Regions from separate parts of the Homo sapiens genome. Here all the other regions are linked to region 1. The links come from fine-mapping of genetic effects on gene expression. A gene starts in region 1. Each other region holds a variant in brackets. All regions are shown on one strand. Distances are from middle to middle.

Region 1 (8,187 bases):
GCTGTCTAGTGGAGAGGTCTGCGGGACAGGGCACCTGCAGTGGAAACTCCCCAGATGAACTTGGGGACTCTCCACTTAGAGTCTCCTGCTTGTTTATCTTCTTGGCCCATTCCTGGCAGGATTTGGGTGTTTGTTTAAGGATTCAGGGTTTGAGATCCAAGATAACCAGCGATGAGCGTAATAGGGAGTTACACTTGTAAATGTTGAAATCATACAGGCCATGGCTCAAATCCCAGCTCTACCACCCATATATAGCCTGTGGTATAGGCTATAGCAAGTCAGTTAATTTTCCTGTTTATAAAAATGGAGACAAGAGGAACATCTACCTCATGGGGCTGTTAGGAGTTATAAAGGGGATGATGCACCAAAAATCTTTAGCATAATGTCTGCCACATGGTAAGTGCCCCAGAAGTGGTTAAAACTCCTCCCACTTTTCTTCCTCTCTGCATAATCTACGGACATCTTTGAGCCTCATTTTCCTCTTTGCACAATGGGGATCATGATACCTTCTTCTTCCAGCAATTGTGAGGGTTTCCATGAGAAAGGGATGTAAACGCATTTGGTAGGCCGGGTGTGGTAGCTCATGCCTGTAATCCCAGCACTTTGGGAGGCCAGTGTGGGAGGATCACTTGAGCCCAGGAGTTCAAGACCAGCCTGGGCTACATAGTGAGACCCCCGTCTCTACAAAAAAACAAATAAAACAAAATTAGCTGGGCATAGTGATATGCACCCGGTAGTTCCAGCTACTCAGGAGGCTGCGGTAGGAGGATCACCTGAGCCCAGGAGATCAAGGCTGAAGTGAGCCAAGTTCGCACCACTGCAGTCCAGCCTGGGCAACAGAGTGAGACCCTGACAAAAAATAACCAAAACCAAAACCAAAACATTATTTTGTGACTCTCAGTTCTCAGCTTCTCAGCTGAACTATGTTGCTTAAATTGGATCCCACACATCGCTCCACAAGCCGACTACCACCCTAGCGAGCCTTTCTGTTTCCTTTTAACTTCAAACACTCGTTGGTTATGCTGGGGCTTGGGTACAGGTACCCGGTATTCCAGAACAAAAGGGTTGGGCCTTGAAACCTGACTCTTACTGGTTGTGCATCTTGGACAAGCTGCTTCAACACTGGGCCTCACTTTCTTTCTCTGTAAATGGAAGTGATGATACTGACTTTATAAGGTTGTTGAGAAAAATCACATGTAACAGTGCATTTAAAACACATAGCATTCTACCCTGCACATAGTAGATATTCAAGAAATATTAGCCATTATTATTATTACCTCCAATGGTCAACCCTAGCCTGGTTCTGAGTAGGTAAAGAGGAGGAGGAAGGGAATTTTTCATGCAACCCTCTTGCTCAGGTAGGGAGTAGAAGCGAGGGCCAATAAAGAACTAGCATTGAGCTCCTACTGAATGCTGGGGATGCTCACAGGGACTATCTTACTTCATCCTCACAACAACTCTTGCAAGAGTGGCATTATTAACCACGTTTTTACAGGTGGGGGAACTGAGGTCCACAAAGGGCAGTTTGCTGCTTAAGGTCACACTGAGAGGTCAGGTGGGGTGGAGGACTGGGATTTGAAGAGATATTGGATTGAGTCCAGAGCCTTCCTGCCTGACTGAGAAGCTGCCTACACAGGTGGGGCCGGGTGGGGCTGGGTCCATGAGTGATTCAGGTAAGAGTCAGCTCTGGTTTTCCAAATAGTGGGTGGGGCCCAGCAGGAGTGAGACCTCTCCAGGAGCATTACAATCCAGGCTGTAGCTAGGGTGAGCAGGAGGGCACGTGATTGGTGTGGATAATGGGGAGGGGGCTATGCAGAGAGAAATCCTATCCCTTGTTACCAGTGGGGTATAGGGAAGGAGGTCCTTGCTGCCTTAGCTGGGAAGGGCTCAGGGCCTGGGGTGAAGCTGGGCCTGTGGGACAGCTGGGGGTGCTGGCCCATGGGACAAGCTGGAGAAGGCAGGGAAACTGAGGCAGGCAGTGATACTTTTGGTGGCCGTCACAGCAGATGGGTGGTTGGCAGTCACTTCGATGAGGCTGGTGCTGGACCTGGTCTGTTTTTTTAATGCATTCACTACTCTTTTAGATACTCATTCATTTCTTTGTTCAAGCAACAAACATTCCCTGGATGTCTTTTATCCGCCAGATCCTATGCTTGGCCTTGGGGCTACAAGAGTGACCAGGACTCTTATAGCCTCATAATGTTTGGGGGCAGAGGGACAATGTGATCAGGAGTGGCACTGCTGTGGCCAGGGAAGGCACAGGGGCTTCCTAGAGGAGAGAAGGGGGAGGAGGAGGCATGTTAGAGGAGGCCTACCAGGGGACATGGGAGGTGGACTTGCCCTATAAGTGGAAGCTCACAATCTTGAGGACTAGGATGGTGACACCAGTCCTAGGCATTTAGACTATAGCTTTGCAGTAGGGAGCAGGAAAAGGTGGCCCTGTGCTGTGGTCTCTTTCCCAGGGCTGGGGCAAGGGCTACCCCAGACCTCTCCCCTGTGTATCCAGCTGCATGCTGGGGCGGTTGGGGGTGCTGGCCCATGGGCCAAGCTGGAGAAGGCAGGGAAGGTTTGATCCTCCTCATTCCTTGAAGTGGATCAAATACAAGAAGCCCAAATTCAAATTCCACCTACCCATGCCAGCTCCCCTTCCCTGGATATTACCACCAGCATTGAGCCAGAAGGCTAGGTGTCCTCAGCACCTTTCTTCCCCTAAGCTCTAGTGCTAATCGGTCACCAAGCCCTGGCACTTCTGCCACCATTTCTCTCATCTACCTTCTCCCCACTCCATGCTCTTGGTCCTGCCTCATCCCTGGAGGGCTGCCTCGGCACCCTGCCTGCTCTCTCAGACTCCATCCTCTCCTGTATTGCAGCTGTGTTGAGATCTGTGGTGCTGGTCACAGAGCCTGGCTGCAGTGAGGGCTCAATTGCTCCATGCTGGAACTGGACCAGTCCTCAGAGACCATCTGATCTGCTCATTCTGTTGTTCAAATGGGGAAACAGAGGCCCAGTGAGGCCTAGCGGCTTGTTTAAGGTCACGCTATGGAAGAAGTGACTTGAACTCACTTCTGATTCTGAGGTGAAGGCTCTTCCCATCAGTGCCAGGGCCACACAAGTGTTTCTTGTTTTGAGTGCAGATGGGTGGCTTGGAAGTCAGCAGGAGGCACAGGTGTGGTGACTTGATGGGCTCAGGGCCCAAAGGGAGGGAGGGCCTGGGAGTGGAAGATGGAACCTCATTCAAGCCCGTCTCTCCTTTCTTCTCACCAGAAACTCCCCCTTTCTTTGGACAACTGGACCCCCACACCTCCACCCTGTCCCCATCCCTTTTGCTGATAATCCCATCTCCTTGCCCTGTAAATGCTAGGGGGCCCTTGATTTGGGGAGGAAGGGAAGGCTGAAGCCGGTCCCGGCACCCTGAGAGCCCCAGGGCCCTCCAATGCCCCACTCCTTCTCCAGGTCTGCCCTGGCTTGCTCTGTCTCCCTAGGGCAGCTGGCTTTTGTCCCAGGGGAGCATGGGAACAGCTTGGGTGAGAATGGGGGAGGGGCTTCCCAGCAGGTTTCACCTCTCCCACCTGGCATAATTTCTACCCTGCACCCAGTGATGCCCAGGAGCCAGCACAAGAACCTCTGAGCTCTCCTGCCGGCTTTCCCCACTGTGGGGCCCACAGGATGGCTGGGTGTGCTGGGGAAACTGAGGGAGATGACTTGTGGGTGCCAGCACCATGGGACTTTGGGTGATCTTGGACCTATTCCTTCCTCCTTCTAGGTGCTTCCTGAGCTGGCGAAAAGGAGAGCTGGATGCTGGGATTCTATAAATTCGGCGGTGGATGTGAGTCTAGCTACAGCATGGACCCTGGCCAGCCCTGGAATCTGAGTTCAGAGATCTTTGAAAAAATGCCTTCCGATAACTGAGCACCTACTACATGCTGGACACTGCACCAGGAGATTTGTGTGCATTCCCTCATTGAATCTTACAACCACCCTCTGGGATGGTTTTTGCTATTAAGCCGATTTTATAGATGAGAATACTGAGGGCTAGAAAAGATAAGTACCTTGTCCAAGGTGACACGGCCAGTAAGCTGTGGAGTCTGGATTTGAACTAGGCTCTCTTGGAGTTTGGAGCCCGGTCTTTTCATTTCTGGCAGAGACCTGTGGCTTCAGGGGGCGGAGCCCAGCCCATGGGGGAAGTAAGTCCTTCCTGTTAGATCTGTCTGAGGAGTAGTGAGTTTCTCATCTAGGAAACCATCAGCAGGCCAGGCTGGACTGCCCCATTTCTAGCCCCCTTTCTTCTCTGCAGACTGCCCTGTTTCTAGCCCCTTTTCTTCTCTACCCTTTTCTGTAGAGTGCGTTAGACCCATTTTACAGAAGGGGACTCTGAGACCCTTTCTTCTCTGCGGGGCAGGGTATGTGGTTCAGACGAGCCGCTTCCATCCCCAGTTCTGTCCCTAAGCCCTGGGTGACCTCAGCATTGAGCATCGTCTCTGAGCCTCAGTTTCCTGTCTATATCTAGTGCCACCAGGCATCAGAAACGTAAGTGCTTCAAGGATCTTGGGTGAAAAGCCGCTTTAGCGGCGAGCATACACTAATTAATAAAATGCCTTGGCCGGGGCTGGGCAGAGGAAGTAAGCGGGCAGCCGAGGTGACAGCTGGAGGGAGGAGCGGGGGTGGAGCCGGGGGAAGGGTGGGGAGGGGATGGGCTGGAGCTCCGGGCAGTGTGCGAGGCGCACGCACAGGAGCCTGCACTCTGCGTCCCGCACCCCAGCAGCCGCGCCATGAGCCGTGAGTGCGACCCCGGTGCCCGGTGGGGAATTTTCTTGGCCTCCTGGTGGAGCCTTGAATGCCAGGCTCAGCCCCTCATCTCTCTCCTCTGCAGGGAGTCTCTTGCTCTGGTTCTTGCTGTTCCTGCTCCTGCTCCCGCCGCTCCCCGTCCTGCTCGCGGACCCAGGGGCGCCCACGCCAGGTAGGCGGCCCCATCCCTCCCCAAGGGAATCCCCGGTCTTGCGCCCCTGGCCTGGTTTCAACCCCCTCCTTTCCCCTCCAGCGGGCCCAGCTTCCCCTTTCTGCTCGCGGTGCTGAGAAAGACTGAGGCTGAGTCTTTTGGTGGGATGGGGGCTCCCTGAAGCCCCCCCGGCGGTGTGGCCTTGGCTAATGGGCTATCTAGTTCTTTCAGGGGAAACAGCAGACTGGGATCTGGTGCCAACTTGGGGAGAAGGGACAGTCCCTATCCATCCCCCTCACCTGTTCTGGGCCCCAGATGTCTAAGCAGCCTCTGCACCCAACAACCCCGCTGTTTCCTATAGGGGCCTCTTTGGGAGGAAGCCGCAGGCACCAAGGGAAATGAGTTCCCTTTCTCCAGCCTCTAACCGTCTGGGAACCCATCCTGATTCCCATTGCCAGTGGAGAAGGTCTCCCCTGGTGAAGACTTCGGGAGAACATGGGAGATGGAAATACATTTAGGAGCCGGGATGCTTCATCTGGGGTTTAAGAGATCCCCATTGAGCAAATGAGGAAACCGAGGCTCAGTAGGTGCCATGATTCCCCAAGCTCACAAAATACATGGTGGGCCCAGGATCTGAACTCAGGTCTGTCTGCGTCCACACACTTCGCAAGGTCTTTCCACAGAAAGCTGCTTCTACCCACAATGGACCCGGAGCCACTCTGGGTTTCATGGGGGAGGTTGATGGGGAAATTCCGCCCTTCCCTCCCCCATGCATGTGCCAGGTTCCAGGTGAAGGAATTCAGCTCCTCGCTCAGCCAACCTTCCTCCCCCAGCTCGCTGCTTGTGTGTGTGCGTGTGTGTGAGCATGTGTCCCAGTTGGATATAGTTTCCTCCACCACCTAGCTGTGTAAAATCTCTAAAATGAGGCCCAGAGAGGGCAGGAGGGAGCAGAGGGAGTCCGCACTTTCTGCTGTGATGCTCTAAGGATCTGGTGCGTGGGGGAAAGAGGAAAGATATGTACATGGATTTTGGATCAGACCAAGTTTCCTGAAACGGGCTTTGGGTGGGTGGCATTTAGGGGACCCAAAGAGAGGACGGAGGGTGCTCTAGGAAAGGGATTGCGTTGAATAAAAGTCTGGTTTATGGGAAGAGGAGGAGGAAGACTCATGTGGCCAGCACTTTAAAGTTTACAAAGGTTGGTTGTGGACATCCACCTCTTTGGTGCTCTCAACAGCCCTGCCAGAGAGATGCGTTAGACCCAGTCTACAGAAGGGGACTCTGAGGCCCAGAGGGAGTGAAGCCACTTGTCTGAATCCTCACAGTGAGCTGGTGGTGGGGAGTAGAAGGGGCTCTTCAGGTTGCCTCGCTGACCCATCTTGTCAGTCCCTGGATCAGCCCAGCACTTCCTCTGAGGCCCCATCTGGCCTCATCCAGGCACTCTTGGTATACAGGTCCCACCCGTCTGTATTCTTTTTTAGTCCATTCACTAATGCACAATGAGCCATGGTCTGTGCTATTTTGTTTTTTGCCTTTTCTGTTTCCTTTTGTATAATAAATGTTTACACGGAATTGTTTTTTTTTATCCCCAAGGGTTATTTATGCCAGTCTTTGGCTGGGGCCTGGAGACACGGAGCTGGGAGGAGCTGACAGGCTGATGGTGGAGCCAGAAATGCCAACAGACTGTCATCCAAGGGGACCAGGGCTGTGCGGAGCTCATGGGAGGAAGCAGGGGTATAGGGAGCCCAGGGAAGGGAGCAGGGGTGTGCGGAGCTCAGGGGAGGGAGCAGCTGCCTCTCAGTGCGAAGAATTGAGGGAGGCTTCTTGGATCTGATGACTTTTGGACTGGACCTCGAAGGAGGTGGCGGGTGGGGGAAACACTAAGAGACTCGACCAGGAAACACCGTAAGGGTAATGTGGAGCAGGAGGCTGAGGTTGGATGCGTAATGTGGGGATGAGACTGGAGGCCAGAAAACTGGTACCGAGGCTCCTGCAAGGATCTAGGAAAGAACGAATGACTGGTGGAGTGCAGGGGCAGAAGGTCTGGGTTGCCCTCATATTTCCAAGTCTGCGAGTAAACTGAGGGCCAAGCTACTTGGGCATCTGCCCCAGGAAGCCAAAGCCTGTCTTTTACCTCTAGAGGCAAAGGAGATGAAGAGATGAGGGCTGCACTCACCTAAGAGGGCAGGCGGAGGGAGAGAATGCTGCTTTTGCCTCTCTGGTGGGTGAGGAGATGGAGGCCAGCCTGGAGGCAAGGCTGTGCCGGGGGCGCCCTGAATGCTCAAGTACTTCCCCTCTAGTCTCTGGACTTGACTCAGTGCCCATCTTCTAGATGGGGATAGGGCATGACCTGGCAACCAGAGCTGCATGCCAGGCAGAGGAGCCCCAGGCCAGCTGACCCGGGCACATGGGGCAAGATGCCAGCTGTGCCAAGGCTGCCCGGGTGCCTGCACCTGCTCTCGCCAGCACCAGTTGGGTCTGTGGGCCGGGAGAGGGCTTCCCCACCAGCAGGCTCTTCCAGCTGCTGGGCCCAGTTGTCTGGATCTGGTGTGGTGGTGCTTAGGTGTGGGGACTGGGGCCCAGGCCAAACCAGTCAGGGTTCCCCACCTTTTTTTTTTTTCTCTCTGGCTGCCAGGTCCCCAGAGACTCTCTAAATATTACTCTTTAGGGGATTTGGGTCCTGCCTCTTCACTGGGCAATCTTGCAGCCTGACACCTCTGCATCCTGGAGGACTTGGTGTTCCCTGGCTGTGCCTGTCCCCTAGTCACGCTCAGTCCTGGACCTGGAGCCCTGACTTTTGGGCTAGGGGGTGTTCCTTGCCCAAACCCTTGGAAAGGTCCTGGAACCAGGCAGTTCTGGACAGTCCTCATCTGTGGGGATGGGGACTAGCAGCTTGGCCTTTGGGCTGCGTGTGTCTGGCATGCAGCGTGGTGTGCTGATCATCTCTGCCTCCGCGTGTCTTGGGGACTCAGTGAGAGCAAATGGGAAGGTTCTCTGCTGATGGGGCAGTTGTGGGAGGGTTGTATTGATACAAATAATGGAGAGGGACAGATTGGCTCTACCCAGAGTAGAGGGCCTGGACGTCGAAAGGAAGGCCTCCTTTAGCCCGCCTGCTAAACCCCCTTCATGGGATATACAGAAAAATGAGGCTCCAGAGGTGGGAGGGACTCACCCAAGAATGCACAGCCAGTAAGAGCAGCCACTCTCTAATACAGCTCTCCCAAGCAACTACTTGGTGCCTGGCCCTGTGCTGA
Region 2 (8,175 bases), 32 kb after region 1:
CCTTGTGTGAACATTGGTGGTAGCCAGGCAGTACTCCCCATGGGCCTGTGGTGGTGCTGGCCATGGGGAGAGACTCCTCTGCCTGTGGGAAGGGGAGGGATGAGTGGGAAAGACTTGACTTGTAGCTTTGTCTGCAGCTCAGCTGCAGTAGAATAGAACACAAGGCAGATTCTTAAGATTTTCAACTCCAGGCTCTGGTCCCCAAACAGCATCTACGGACCTGCTTGGGGGAACTCGCTGCCCTGAAGGGAAGGACACAAGCTTGGCTGACTTACTGCCTGCTAACTGCAAAGCCCTAAAGCCTTGAGTAAACAAAGGTGGTGGTAGCCAGGTAGTGGTTATAATGGGCCTTGGGTAAGAAACAGTGCTGTGCTGGCTTCAGGTCTGACCTAGTGCAGTCCCAGTGGTGGTGGCCACAGGGGTGCTTGTGCCACCCCTCCCCCAGTTGTAGGCAGCTCAGCACAGAGACAGAGAGACTCTGTCTGTTTGGGAGAAAGTAAGGGAAGAGAACAAGAATATCTGCCTGGTAATCCAGACAATTCTTCCAGATCTTATCCAAGACCATCAAGTGGTACCTCTACAAGTCTGCAAGAGCCACAGCATTACTGGGCTTGGGGTGCCTCCTAATGCTGATATGACTATGGTGACCAAAAACTTAGATGACAACACCCAAGTCCCTTCGAATACCTGGAAAGCCTTCCCAAGAAGGCTTTCCCAAGAAGCCCAGACTGCAAAGACTACCACAAATATCTAACTTTTCAATGTCCAGACACCAGTGAACATCCACAAGCATCAATACCACTCAAGAAAACATGACCTTACTAAACAAACTAAATAAGTCATCAGGGATTTATCCTAGAGAGATAGAAATATGTGATCTTTCTCTATCTCTCAGAGAGAGGTCATATATCTACACCTCTAGGCTTTTCAGACAGAGAATTTGAAATAGCTATTTTGAGGAAACTCAGTGAAATACAAGATAATACAGAGAAGGAATTCAGAATCCTATCAGATCAATTTAACCAAGATATTGAAATAATTAAAAAGAATCAAGCCGAAATTCTGAAGCTGAAAAATGCAACTGACTACTAAAGAATGCATCAGAGTCTCTTAATAGCAGAATTGATCAAAGAGAAGAAAGAATTAGTAACATTTCTATGTGAAAACAGTGAAAATTCTGAAAATAGTAATCCCATTTACGATAGCTACAAATAAAATTAAGTACCTGGAAATTAATCAAAGAAGTGAAAGATCTTGACAATGGAAAATAAAACACTATGAAAGAAATTGGAGAGGACACACGAAAAACAGAAAAATATTCCATATTCATAGATTGGAAGAATCAACATTGTTAAAATGTCCATACAACCCAAAGCAGTCTATAGATTCAATACAATCCTTATCAAAATACCAATGACATTCTCCATATAAACAGAAAAAACAATCCTAGAATTTATAGAGAACCACGAAAGACCCAGAATAGCCAAAGCTATCCTAAGCAAAAAGAACAAAACTGGAGGAATCGCATTACCTGACTTAAAATTATACTACAGAGATATAGTAACCAAAATAGCATTATACTGGCATAAAAACAGACACATAGACTAATGAAACAGACTACTGAACCCAGAAATAGATCTATACACCTACAGGAACTCATTTTTGATAAAGTTGTTAAGAACATACATTGGGAAAAGGATAGTTAATCTTCAATAAATGATGCTGGGAAAACTGAATATCCATATGCAGAAGAATGAAACTAGACTCCTATCTCTTGCCATATACAAAAATAAAATCAAATTTTGAATTAAAAGCTTAAATCTAAGACCTCAAACTACAAAACCACTATGCAAAAACTCTGTGGAAACTCTCTAGGACATTGAAGTGGGCAAAGATTTCTTGAGTAATACCTCACAAGCACAGGCAACCAAAGCAAAAATGGATAAATGGGATCACATCAAGTTAAAAAGCTTCTGCACAGCAAAGGAAACAATCAACAAAGTGAAGAGACACCTCATTTGCCCTGACATGATTATTATGCATTGCATGCCTGTATCAAAACATCTCATGTAACCCATAAATATACACACCTGCTATGTATCCACACACAAAATATGTCTCACACAAAAATATGTTAGACACGCCTACAACCCACTTTTCAACTTTATCATGCTTTTCCTATAAAAATGGACTCTAAATTAAAACAGCTATGTGTGAATGACAGAAAGAAATACTAAAACTTAAAAGATACTTTTATTGAGTACTATTAAGAGAATCACAGTGAAGCACTTTCTTCACTATCTTATCTGTTATTCGTGTTTCATTCAAAGTTGGTTTCCCTCCACACTTGGTCAAAATACGTCTTTTGCTTTCAATCTTTATCCTTTAGTCAAAAGGGATTTTGAGCCATTTGTACAATTGCAGCTTGGGTTTCAGAACGATGTGGCAGTACACCCTTGCAGGTTTCTGTGGCAGGTCGGTCTCCCTCCTGCCTTCAACTGGAGTATAACATACAGCAAAGAGCATTAATCTTAAGTGCATAATTCGACATATTTTTACACATGTATAAACCGCCATAGAAATCAAGATATAGAACATTCCCAGCACTCTAGAAGGCTCTTTTGTGCTCCTTCCCAGTCAAAAACCACTGAAAGGTAACCACTATTTTCACTTTTATCACTTTTGATTAATTTTGTCTACTCACGAACTTCATTTGAATAGCGTCATAAAGTATGTACTTTTTTGTGTGTTTGGCTTCTTTTGCTCAACATAACGTTTGTTGACATCCATGTTGCTGTGTATATCAGCAGTTTGATCTTTTTATTGCTGTGTAATTAACGTATATCACAGTTGATTTATCTAGTCTTCTGTTGATGGACATTTGGGTTGTTTCCATTTTTTTTACTATTATGAATAAAACTACCCTCTATGGTAGATTTTAACTCTTTTTTTTTTTTTTGAGATGGAGTCTCACTCTGTCGCCCAGGCTGGAGTGCAGCGGTGCGATCTTGGCTCACTGCAAGCTCCACCTTCCGGGTTCACGCCATTCTCCTGCCTCGGCCTCCCGAGTAACTGGGACTACAGGTGCCCACCACCACACCTGGCTAATTTTTTTGTATTTTTAGTAGAGACGGGGTTTCACCGTGTTAGCCAGGATGGTCTCGATCTCCTGACCTCGTGATCCGCCCACCTCGGCCTCCCAGAGTGCTGGGATTACAGACATGAGCCACCACGCCAGGCCGATTTTAACTCTTATAATGAGGGCTGTAATTAAAACATCATCTTTACATACACTTATTATGGGAAATGGTTCCAGTTCTCTATTCAAAATTCCCCTTTGTGTCTTCTCTTGCTTCATGGACTGATGGAAAGAGAAAGTGGATTCACGAGGGTACACGTACCATTAGAGAAGGAGAAAGGGAGCATATATTTATCAGACATCTACTCTGGGGCATGTATTTTACCTGCCTATTGTATTAACTCCTCCTAACAATTTTGTAGGTAGGTTTTCCTGTTTCACAAAGGATGAAATTGAGACACAGAAAAATTAGGTGACCTGTCTGGAGTCATACAGCTACAAAGTGGTAGGAGGTCACATGAAATTCCAAAGCGTGGCCTTTTCCCACCATGTGCCCTGTCCAAATCATCTAGAACCAGAATCACAGTAGGGATGGGGGAGTGGAGGGTGGTAGGCATTGGTGATATTGATGCACTTCCAGATGATTCTATCCATAAGCCTCAGAGGGAGCCCTCTGCACTGTATCATGCTGCCTTTGGTCATTCTTTTCCTCTTTAGATGAGTGACGTTTTCTTTCCTCTCCCCATGACTCACTTTTTCCACGCTTGCTGTCTCCTTTCTAATCTATGACTCACACTCTGCATCCTCAGTGACGTTCACTGCATATAACTGGTTATCTGAAATCTCAAAGCAGTGCCATCTCTCTCCCTGCCTGCTGCCCACTTGCCCTTACCCCTTCCCTCACCAAGTGAGCCACACTCAGTGAGGCCCCAACCCAAGCTCTGCCTCCTTCACCAGGCTGATGCTCAAGGATCTGCTCTTGTCTTGATTCTCAGTTCCTGCCCTTATGGGAGGGATTCAGGCCAGATCCTAATTTCCTCCTCCTCCACACTCACCCTATGGGGTAGAAAAGACGGTCTACCAGTTATTTTTCTTTCATTGTGGTAAAATACATGTAATGTAAAGTTGATCATTTTAAACACCTTACAGCGTGCAATTGAATGGCATTTAGTATATTCACAATGTGGCGCAACCATCACCAATACCTAGTTCTAGAACATTTTCATCATTCCAAAGGAAACCCCATAACCATTTTCAGCAGTCACTCTCCATCTCCAGCCCCTGGCAACCATTAACTTTCTTTCTGTCTGACAGTGTTAACAGCATTCACTACATGCCAGGCATTGTGCTAATATCATGATATGCATACCTTATTAATTCTCATGCCAGCAGCTCTGTGAAACTGGGGTTCTTCCTTCCATTTCACAGATGAGATAATTGAGGCTCAGAGAGAAAAGATTTATGTGAGGTCACAAAGCCCGTAAGTGGTAGAACCTGGACAAAACCACCCCCCACTCCAGCCCAGCGCTGTTTCCAACCACTGCTAAATGATGACCAAAACATGAATGATGCAGGTCTGGGTAACTCCTAAGCACATATATTTTCCATTCCAAAAGAATATTCTTTCCACTCCATCCTGAAGGTCAGTGGTAACAAAAAACAAACAAAAAAACGCAGTGAGCACACATTCAAATGACTTA[C/T]GTTCCAGGAATTTTCTGGGATCTGTGACCCCAGAAACTATTAGTTGACATCTTGGGATGGCACACAGGGCAAGCAGAGTAAGAAATAAAGTGACTCCAAATGTGTCACAGGCTGAGGGGGTCTCACGAAAGGAAAGGTTCTAACTGGTACCAGATGGCTGTTTCTCCTGCCTTGTTGTCTAAGATTCTTTCTTCAAGAGTTTGGGCTTTTGGTTGCTAGGACCATGTAGGCTGACTTCCCTTATGGTTCCAGAAACGAAGGAAGCAATTGCAACCTCTGTCCACAAAAAAAGGAGGAGCTTATTAGACTTAACAGAAAAGCTACCATATGACATGCAAGCAAGGCCACGTTTTCCTGATCTTCATGCAATTAAGACAAATCTGTGTTGGATGCCTCGTCCTACCTCACACCAAACATGTTAAAATGTGGCCATATGGCACATTTAGTATAATTTACATATATATGTTGAGGTAGGTTTTAGTTGACTAACATAATACATTTTGTAGACATTTAATTAAACATTTATAACTTTCATTTTGTAAGTTTTTGGGACAGTACAATTATTTCTTCCAAGTCTCAAATAATTCCATAAACCTTTGAAAAGGTCAGTGACCACCAAGCATTGTGCATTGTGTGGGTTTCTTAAACAACCTTGCTTTGTGAGCCTCTCTGCATGATCACTGTTGTTGAGTAGCTGGTCATTCTGGTCATTGGTCTGAATCTGATTGCCTTTATCACTCAGCCAGACAAGAGCTCAGAGGTGGAGTCTCTGCTGATTTGGAAAAATATGGAACATAAGTTCCCCAACAAAGTGTTCCAGTAGATTATTTTTACTTATCGTGCTTCACAAATATAGCTGAACTTGTAGCTGCCATTCAAAATGGCAGCTGGTCTGGACACTAATTGTTAGCAGTTTAGGGAGGACGCAGGGAATCTCACCATTGATGGACTTTGAGCAGTGTAAAAATTGGTAAAGCACAGGGGTACCTGTGGGCATAACCTTGCTAGTAGAAGAGTAGTGACAGAAAAATCATCAAAGGCTTAATAGTGAGGTGGCTTAAAAATAAATTTACAATGCAAATTGAGACATACTTTGCTTACATTAAAATGCACACATCTCAAGTTTACAGCTTGAACTTTTTTTTTTTTGAGACAGGGTCTTGCTCTGTCATTCCAGCTGGAGTGCAGAGGTGTGTGATCGCAACTCTCTACAGCCTTGACCTCTGAGCCTCAAGCAATCCTTCTACCTCAGCCTCCTGAGTAGCTGGGACCACAGGTATGCAAAACCACACCTGGCTAATTTATTTTTTATTAATTTAATTAATTTATTTTTTTAAGACAGAGTCTTGCTCTGTCACCAGGCTGGAGTCCAGTGGGGCAATCTTGCCTCACTGCAACCTCAGCCTCTCAGATTCAAGCGATTTTCCTGCCTCAGCCTACTGAGTAGCTGGGACTACAGGTGCGCGCCACCACACCCAGCTAATTTTTGCATTTTTAGTAGAGATGGGGTTTCACCATGTTGGCCAGGATGGTCTCAATTTCCTGACCTTGTGATCTGCCCACCTTGGCCTCCCAAAGTGCTGGGATTACAAGTGTGAGCAACTGTACCTGGCCTATTTTTATTTTTTGTAGAGATGGGGCCTCCCTCTGTTGCCCAGGCTGGTCTTGAACTCCTGAGCTCAAGAAATCCTCCTGCCTCTGTTTCCCAAAGTGCCACTGTGTCCGGAATTGGTGGGTTCTTGGTCTCACTGACTTCAAGAATGAAGCCGTGGACCCTCAAGGTGAGTGTTACAGTTCTTAAAGGCAGCATGTCCAGAGTTTGTTCCTTCTGATGTTCGAATGTGTTCAGAGTTTGTTCCTTCTGGTGGGTTCGTGGTCTCACTGGCTCAGGAGTGAAGCTGTGGACCTTCGCGGTGAGGGTTACAGCTCTTAAGGCGGTGCATCTGGAGTTGTTAGTTCCTCCCGGTGGGTTCGTGGTCTCGCTGGCTTCAGGAGTGAAGCTGTAGATCTTCAAGGTGAGTGTTACAGCTCATAAAGGCAATGTGGACCCAAACAGTGAGCAGCAGCAAGATCTACTGCAAAGAGCAAAAGAACAAAGCACCCACGGGTTGGAACAAGACCTTAGCAGGTTGCCACCGGGGTGCAGGCGGCCTGCTTTTAGTCTCTTATCTGGCCCCACCCACATCCTCCTGATTGGTCCATTTTACAGAGCTGATTGGTCTGTTTTACAGAGCACTGATTGGTCCGTTTTGACAGGGTGCTGATTGGTGCGTTTACAATCCCTGAGCTGGACACAAGGGTTCTCCAAGTCCCCACCAGAGTAGCCAGATACTGAGTGTCTATTGGTGCATTCACAAACCCTGAGCTAGACACAGGGTGCTGATTGGTGTGTTTACAAACCTTGAGCTAGATACAGAGTGCCCATTAGTGTATTTATAATCCCTTAGCTAGACATAGAGGTTCTCCAACTCCCCACCAGAGTAGCTAGATACGAGTGTCGATTGGTGCATTCACAAACCCTGAGCTAGACACAGGGTACTGATTGGTGTATTTACAATCCCTTAGCTAGACATAAAGGTTCTCCAAGTCCCCACGAGACGCAGGAGCCCAGCTGGCTTCATCCAGTGGATCCCGCAGCGGGGCCGCAGGTGGAGCTGCCTGCCAGTCCCGCGCCGTGCGCCTGCACTCCTCAGCCCTTGGGTGGTCGATGGGACTGGGCGCCGTAGAGCAGGGGGTGGCGCTCGACGGGGAGGCTGGGGCGGCGCAGGAGCCCACGGCGCGGGGCGGCTCAGGCATGGCGGGCTGCAGGGCCCGAACCCTGCCCCGGGGGGAGGCAGCTAAGGCCCGGCGAGAAGTCGAGCACAGCAGCTGCTAGACCAGGTGCTAAGCCCCTCACTGCCGGGGGGCCAGTGGAGCCGGCTGGCCGCTCCGAGTGTGGGGCCCGCCGAGCGCCCGCCCACCCGGAACTGGCGCCTGCTCGCAAGCGCCGTGCGCAGCCCCGGTTCCCGCCTGCGCCTCTCCCTCCACACCTCCCCGCAAGCTGAGGGAGCCGGCTCCGGCCTCGGCCAGCCCAGGAAGGGGCTCCCACAGTGCAGCGGCGGGCTGAAGGGCTCCTCAAGTCCCGCGAAAGTGGGAACTCAGGCAGACGAGGCGCCGGGAGCGAGCGAGAGCTGCGAGAACTGCCAGCACGCTGTCACCTCTCACCACGATTACAGGTGTAAGCCACAGTACCTGGCCTACCTTGAACTTTTTTTAACCTAAAGAGGTAACTGCTAGTCTGACTTCTAGCACTGTAGATAGTTTAGCCTGTTCTTGAACTTCATACGAATGGCATCATACTATATATATTCTTTAATTAATTTTTTAAAGAGACAGGGTCTCATTCTGATGCCCAG
Region 3 (8,187 bases), 58 kb after region 1:
GGAGGCTTTGAGTGTAAAATATCAGAAAAGTTTCAGTGCGCATGTAGCTGCCTCTGTGGGGTGTGCTCCATTCTTGTTAACGAGGCCCCAGAGAAACTTCATTTGAGAATCTCCTGGCTCATCTGCTTCAATAGTAATTAGCCATGCAGAGAAGATCTCTGTGGTTTAATTAAGTGGCATATGTGGTTAAAAGTTTGTCTTCTTCTAAGGGAGCAGTAATTAAAAATTAAGCGTAGTCTCTCCATGGATCAGTATCTTCATTGGAAACACGGCCTTTGGCTGTCACCAATTCAGAATACTGGAGAAACAGGCACTTCTCTCTCAGGCTCGTCTGCCCCCCTTCCAAGTCCAAAAAGTAGGACCTACCTGGGTCTGATTGGGAATGACACCTAGAATTGAGGGACCAAGTTGGGGGAGATGGGTCTTGCATGGCCATAGTCAACCTCAGTGATATCCTCTGTGTTGAAGGAGGCATAACATTATAGAATGAGATTGGTGAGAGCACTGAGGTAGTAGTGCACCTGATGTATTTAAGGAATAACAGACCAGTATGGCTGGACTGGGCTGAATGAATAAAGAGGGGCAGGAGCTGAGGTCAGAATGGCCACAGGACCAGTTCACATAGTCTTGTAGTCAGATTATTGCAAAGATTTTGGCTTTAATGTGAGCCAACTTTATCAATATTTTGTTTTTGCTACATTTTGATCTTATTTAGAAAATCTTTCCATAGCCTAAGTTCTAAAATATAACTTTTATTTTCTACAAAGTGTTTTTTCTAAAATTAAGTTTTCTAAAGCATAATTTATGAACAATAGCATTTATTCATAGGAAGTATTCCATTTGATGAGTTTTGACAACAGTATGCCGTTATGTAACAACTACAATGAAGATACACAATATTCTTATTGCCACAAAAGTTCTCTCCTACCCATTGGTAGTCACTATCCTTCTGCCACTCCTAGCCCCAGGCAAACGGTGATCTGATTTCCTGCTTCCTTTTCCTGAATGTCATACAATTAGAATGATATAAGATGTAGCCTTTTTTTGGTCCAGCTTCTTTGATTTTGCATACTTTTTTTGAGATTCTTCCAAGTTGTTGCACATATAAGTAATTCGTTCATTTTTATTGCTGCATATGGATGTACCACAATTTGGTTATCCATTCATCATTGGTGGACTGTCTCCACTGTTTGGCTACTGTGAATAAAGCTGCTCTAAACATTGGCATACAGTTCTTTGTGTGAACATATGGTTCCTTGTCTTTTGGGTAAATACCTAGGGATAGGATTGCTGGGTTGTATGGTAGGTATGTGTTAAACTTTTAAAGAAACTGCTAAACTGTTTTCAAAAAGGGCTGCTCCATTTTGCAATGGATACAATTTCCAGGTGCTTCTCTCACCAGAGCTTGGTATTAGCCATTTTAGTGATGTGTAGTGGTATTTCATTGTGGTTTTGATTTGCATTTCCCTAATGACCAGTGGTGTCAAGCATCTTTTCATGTGCTTATTTGCCATCTGTATATCTTCTTTGATTAAGTGTCTGTTCAGATCCTTTGCCCACTATTTGAGCTATTTGTCTTATAATTGATTGTGAGAGTTCTTTTTTCTAGATAAAGTCTTTATTAGGTATGTGTTTTGCAAACATTTTCTCCCAGCCTGTGGCTTGTCTTTACATTCTCTTAACAGTATCTTTCAAACAGCAGAAGTTTAAAATTTTGATGATGCTGAATTTAGCAGTTTTTTTCTATTATGGTTTTTGCTTTTTGTTTCTTATGTGAAAATTATTTGCCTAATCCAAGGTTACAAAGCTTTTCTTTTGTTTTCTTCTATAAGTTTTACAGTTTTAGCTCTTACATTTAAGTCCATGATCCATTTTGAATTAATTTATATATATGGTGTGAGTTAAGGATTGATTTTTTTATATGGATATCCAATTGTTCCAGCATCAGTTGTTGAAAAACTGTCCTTTCTCTATTGCATTGGAATTTTTGTCAAAAATCAATTGACCATATAACTGTAGATCTATTTCTGAACTCTTGTTTGATTGAGCTTTAAAACCAAAAGTACACTGTCTTGATTATTATAGCTTAGTAAGTCTTGAATTGCATGGTGTGGGTCTTCTTTCCTCCCCCAAAGTTATTTAGGTTCTTCTAGGTTTTTTGCCATTTCCATATAAATTTTATTTTAAAATTTTCAACTTACAAAAGAGCCCAATAGAATTTTGATTGAGATTTCATTGAACCAGTAGGTCAGGAATTGCCAAAAAAACACTTTCACAGAAACACATAGAATAATGTTTGACCAAACACCTTGTTACCATGGCTCAGCCAATTTGATACATCAAATCAACTATATAGTCTCTCTCCTGATGAATATCACCGTCTTTACCTTCAGTCTCTATTAATGGACTACATTTTTACCAATATTCATAACAAAAAATTAGAATTTTACAGTTTATCTGTAATTAGAAATATGTCTTCATACTTATAAAAGAAAGAATGTTTATGGTCAGGGCATGAGATCCTTTATGAAGATGCAGATTTAAAAAAATCTATACTTTTGCTATCCAGAGGTAACCACTGTTTCTACATTTTGGTAGATTTCCTCAAATTTATTTATATTTATGCCAAGTCTTATTCCTGAAGAATTTAAGGAAGCTTGGAAATACGTATAAAATACAAGATAAGATAAATGGAAAATGAGGTTAGAAAAAGAACAAAAGGGGGGATAAACAAGGGTGGAGACATAAAATTGAGCCAGGAATGACTCTGAAAATGCAGATTATGATGACTGTTGTTATGGGTGGGCCTCAGATTTGGCTCAGGCTTTCTGGTCAGTCACACAGTTCACTGGGACCAAAAGTAAAAATAAACCACTTGATTAGGTGAAATTATATCATCTGCGGTTCTAAGAACAGACACATTGCATGGGGTTTCTTTTAATCCGTCTTAATGTAGGCTTTGGCAATCAAATTGGGGTGTAAAAATTCACAGTAAACAATAGCTCAGAGGCAAAAAGAATGCTGTCTAGGTGCTCAGATTTCCAGTGGTTTGGGTGGACAACATATTGGATTTTAGTCTTGCAGGTAGGTATGGATGACCTGCATGTCCTTTGAGCAAGCTTCCCTAAATATATTTTCTTTTAGTTAAACTTTTGGTAAACACTGAGTATCAGTGACCACCAACTAATAGTCCCTC[G/A]TTGATACCTAAGCTGCGGCTGGTGTCTATTATCAATCAAGTAGAGGTGAATCCTATTTAGAGTTGGCAATCAAACAACACACTAGTATTTAGTGCAGGGCTTTCAGTCAGACAGATGTTTCAGATTCTAACTCCATAACTCAACTAACTGTGCAGTAATAAACAAGTTAAAAATTTCACCAAGTCTCCAGGTTCTCATCTATAAAATGTGAATAACATCAGTATCTGTCTTGTAGGGTTGTCGTTGGGATTAAATATGTTTACACAAGTAAAGTATGTAACACAATAACAAGAGTATAGTAAGTGTTCAATAAATGATATTATTATTATCTTTATAAAGCTGAGGAGACTAATGAGGACTTGTGCCTAGAAATAAGGCCATCAGACATCTGCTTCCAGGTGAGCTGAGACAGCACCCACCGAACGTGTTCCAGGACCCAAATAAAATCTTAACCTTAAACTACGTAACTTTTGAATGAACTCCCAGATTCCAGTGTATTCTACACCAAGGCATCTCAAGTGTTAGTCTGTGGATCAGTGTTTGTCCATAATGAAGTTTTCATGCATGAACTGAAAAAAAAAAAAAAAAACAACCCTGCAGAATTGGCTCTGTTCCCAGTACTCTTCTCTATCTTTAGGTTAATTTATATTTCTTGTAGAAAGCATTTAGTTGGAACTTTTTAAAACCATGGTGATAATCTTTGTTTTTTAAGCCTCTGGGAAGGAGGTAGTTAGAATATCTGCGTTTGATGTAATTGGTGATAGTTTTGAGTTTAAACCTACTTTTTAATTTTGGCCTTTCTTTTCTTTTCTTTTTTTCTTTCTTTCTTTCTTTTTTTCTTTCTTTCTTTCTTCTTTCTTTCTTCTTTATTCCTTCCTTCCTTCCCCCTTCCTTCCTTCCTTCCTTCCTTCCTTCTCTCTCTCTCTCTCTCTCTTTCTTTCCTTTCTTTCTTTCTTCAGAACCTCACTCTGTCGCCCAGGCTGGAGTGCAGTGGTGCAATCTCTGCTCGCTGCAGCCTCTGTCTCCCGGGTTCGAGTGATTCTCCTGCCTCAGCCTCGCGAGTAGTTGGAATTAAAGGTGCGCACCACTACACCCAGCTAATTTTTGTATTTTTAGTAGAGATGGGCTTTCACAATGTTGGCCAGTCTGATCTCAAACTGCTGACCTCAGGTGATCTGCCTGCCTTGGCCTCCCGAAGTGCTAGGATTATAGACGTGAGCCACCGCACTCAGCCTTGGCCTTTGTTTTCTATTTGTTGTGTATGCTTTTCGTTCATCTGTTTTTCCTTTCTTGCCTCCCTTTGGGTGGATTGATTATTATTTTTTAAAGTATTCTCTTTTATCTCCTCTTTATCTCTTTTTAGTTATGCCTCTGTGTTTGTGATTACTCTAGAGATTATAATCTTCACTTTCAACTATCACAGTCTACCTTCAAAAGATGTTCTACCAAATTACAAATAATGTAAGCACCTCATAACAGTACACTTGTGATTCCTCTTCCCAGCCTTTGTACTCTTAATATCATGTTTTATTTCTACAGATGTCATAAACCACATGATCCATTGTTATCATTTCTTACTTTCAATAGTCAACAGTTGTCTAAAGAGATTTAAAGATGTTATATATGATTATAAACATATTTACAATTCATTTCTATATAATTACAAATGTAATTTTTTAAAAAAGGTCCTTTATATTTACCTACATTTTATTTTATCTAGTGCCTTTCTTTCCTTCCTGTAGATTCATATTTCTACCTGATGTCATTTCCCTTTAGCCTAATACACTTCTTTTAGCATTTCCTGTAGTGTGGGTCTGGTGGGAACAAATTATCTTAGTTTTTGTCTAAACATCTCTTCATTTGCTTTCAGATTTAAAGGATATTTTTGCTAGATATAAGATTCTAGGTTGATAGGGTTTTTTTTGGCTTATTTTTAAAGCACTTTAAAGTTGATGCTCCATTGTCTTCTGACTTTCAGTATTTCTGATAAAAACTCAGAAATTATTTTTATCTCCTCATCCCTTTTCCCTTGCATAGGATATGCCTTATTTCCTGTGGCTGTTTTCAAGAATATCTTCTTGCCTTTGGTTTTACTGGTATGCCGACGTATGCTACATTTTACTGGTATGCCTACATATGTTTTCATTTTTGTTGTTTTATTTTATTATTATTGTTTATTGTTTTTATTTTTTTGTGAAGACAAGGTATCCTATCTTGCCTAGGCTGGTCTTGAACTCCTAAGCTCAAGGGACCCCCCTGCCTTGGCCTCCCCAAGTGCTGGGATTACAGATATGAGCTACTGTGCCTGGCCAGTTTTATTATTTTTTAACTTCAACTTTTATTTTAGATACAGGGGTACATGTGCATGTTCATTACATGGGCATTACACCCAGGTAGTGAGCATTACATATGGTTTCCTTTGTATTTATCCTCCTTGGGTTTCAATGAGTTCTTTGGATCTCTGGGAAAAGTCTTAACCATCATCTTTTCAAATATTTCTTCTGCCACATTTTCTTTCCTTTCTCATTCTTGACTTTCAATTTTAGATGTTATACCATTTTCTATTGTCCTCCATTTACCAAATGCATTATTTCCCCCATCTTGTGTTTCAGTCTGTGTAATTTCTGTTGACATGGCTACAAATTCATTGGTTCTTTCTTCTGCTGTGTTCGATCTGCTGAGGAGCCCATTGAAAAATTTTTTTTTCTGTTTCAAAATTAGTTATTCTCTTTTTTGATATATATTTAAGGCATATGACATGATGTTTTGATGCACAAACACATAGTAAAAAATCTTTCTATCTGATATTGTATTTTTTATTTCTAACATTTCCATTTGGCTTGTAGATATTACATAGTATAAAAATATAGTATAGTAAATATATAGAGAGTATAGTACAGTAATAAAATATGTTATATATAGTATAGTACATGTAATATATACACTTGTGGTATATAAATATATACTATATATAATATATATTATATCTACACTATAAAAGTTTCAATTTCACTTCTGAAACTCTCCATCTGTTCAAGCATGTAGCCTATCTTTTTCAGTACACCCTTTAATATTTTTATCATAGTTATATTAAAGTCCCTCTCTAATAATTCTAACATATAAAGTCCTCTTTGAGTCTTGTTATATTGATTATTTTCTCTCTTGGTGGATCACATCTCCATTTTTCATATGTGTAAAATAACAGAGAATATATAAATAATATTTAGGCCCCCCAAAATACATGATCCAGTTTAATTGTGGCTATCAGTGTGGGAAACTGAGTCAAACTAATTTAGAGTTGAGTAGTCTGGACTTTGTTGTGGCTTTAGTGAGATACAGTTCACTACTGACTTCAAATGATATGAGGGCAAGATTGTAACTTTCCTTTAAGAAGGGCTTGTGTATGAATAAATGTGGGGTTTCTTTTAATTCTCCTGATCTTTCCTTAGCCTTCAGCCAGCCTAGTATACCTTTGCCTGGTGAATAGGATGGTTCTCTCTCAGCTCTTCAGCCTCTTCTCCAGCCATAGGCAGCAACTGCCTTGTATTCCGTGGAGGCCTGGAGTGATAGTGGCGTGTTTCTCAGTTCTACAGCTCCCTCTCTGCTTGTGCTTCAGGTGGAGGTCTCTCTTTGCTGTCCTACTTCCTTTCCCAGCTCTGGTGGCTGCTGCATAGAACTCAGTGAAGTCCTACTGTGTCTGAAGGTTTCCTTCTCCATTTGCCTGTCCTGCCCCAAGACCTCAGCATGCTCTGTGCTCCTGTGTGCTATGTATAGGAGGAGAGGGCAGGTGGTCTTTCTCAGATTTTCTTCACCTCCTTCAGACATAGACAACTGCTGCCCCATAATCTGGTTTAAAGGGACTGTTAAAAGAGATTGCTAAGTTGTCAAACTGCCTGTGTAAGGTTGATGAGTTATGACAAAAACCAAACCCAGAACTATCTTTGTGAGTTGATGAGGGTTACTACAAAAACCAAGACCCAGGAGGTGGTCACAAAGAAACTCATGAAATTTAGCTTATTATAAATTTCCATTTTGAAAAAAGCTTAGTGACATACAAGCTGTAAATTCTTTCAGATGCTTCTAGACAGAAACATTGAACATGGGAATACTTGCCTGAGGCATGAACTTGGTACATAAATTTGTAGAGGCCAAGATCTCAGCTAATACCTAGGTGGCTCACTTCTAGATTTATAAAGCAAGATCAACTTGGTTTTGATCTGTTGCAAGCCACTTACTATATTGGAGCTTGAAACAGTACCTCACGTTGTATGGTGGATGTGGACTTAAGCTGAAAAAATGATCCCATTCAGAACCACAAGAAGATAAGCTACTTAGGAATTGTGATGGTTAATTTTATGTATCAATTTGACTGGTTTAAGGGATACCCAGGTATTTGCTAAAACAGTATTTCTGAGTGTGTCCATAAGGATGTTTCTGAAAGAGATTAGCATTTGAATCAGTGGACTGAGTGTAAAGAAGGTCCACCTTCACCAATGTGGGTGGGCATCATCCAATCAGTTGGGAGTCTGCATAGAACAAAAAGGCGGAGAAGAGAAAATTCATTCTTTCTTCTAGAGCTGGGACATCCATCTTCTCCTGCCCTTAGACATCAGAGCTCCAGGTTCTCAGGGCTTGGGACTGCAGGTCTTACACTAGTGGCCTCCCTCGTTTTCAGGCCTTTGGACACAGACTGAATTACACCAGGCATCCCTGGTTTTCCAGCTTGCAGACAGCGGATAGAGGGACCTGGGGCTCATAATCACATGAGCCAATTCCCATAATGAATCTTCTGTTATATTTATCCTATTGATTCTGTTTCTTTGGAGAGCCCTGATTAATATTGAGGAATAAAATTAGTAAGATATATATATATAAAATAAGATATACATATATAAAAGTTAATGATATATATGTTATAATATATATACACACACACATATATACACACATACTATATAATATTAATATACGTATACTTTAATGAGGACAA

The links. PIP is the estimated chance that this variant, and not a neighbour inherited with it, causes the effect.
Region 2: its variant is fine-mapped to the expression of PTGS1 in whole blood (TOPMed, PIP 0.98).
Region 3: its variant is fine-mapped to the expression of PTGS1 in whole blood (INTERVAL, PIP above 0.99).

Annotation. Positions count from the first base shown.
Region 1 is chr9:122,366,316-122,374,502 of GRCh38, forward strand. It overlaps PTGS1 (prostaglandin-endoperoxide synthase 1), which reads left to right and starts at 4,709. Exons shown (of 11, transcript NM_000962.4): 1 at 4,709-4,776; 2 at 4,871-4,957. The coding sequence starts at 4,770.
Region 2 is chr9:122,398,736-122,406,910 of GRCh38, forward strand. LOC124902264 (a long non-coding RNA gene) reads right to left here and starts at 4,560. Exons shown (of 2, transcript XR_007061758.1): 1 at 4,449-4,560; 2 at 2,235-2,498. RefSeq lists an enhancer at 3,259-4,458. The variant C/T (reference allele first, on the strand shown) is at 4,780.
Region 3 is chr9:122,424,115-122,432,301 of GRCh38, forward strand. No RefSeq gene overlaps it. Among named protein-coding and RNA genes, the nearest start is that of OR1J1, 50 kb to the right of the region's middle. The variant G/A (reference allele first, on the strand shown) is at 3,197.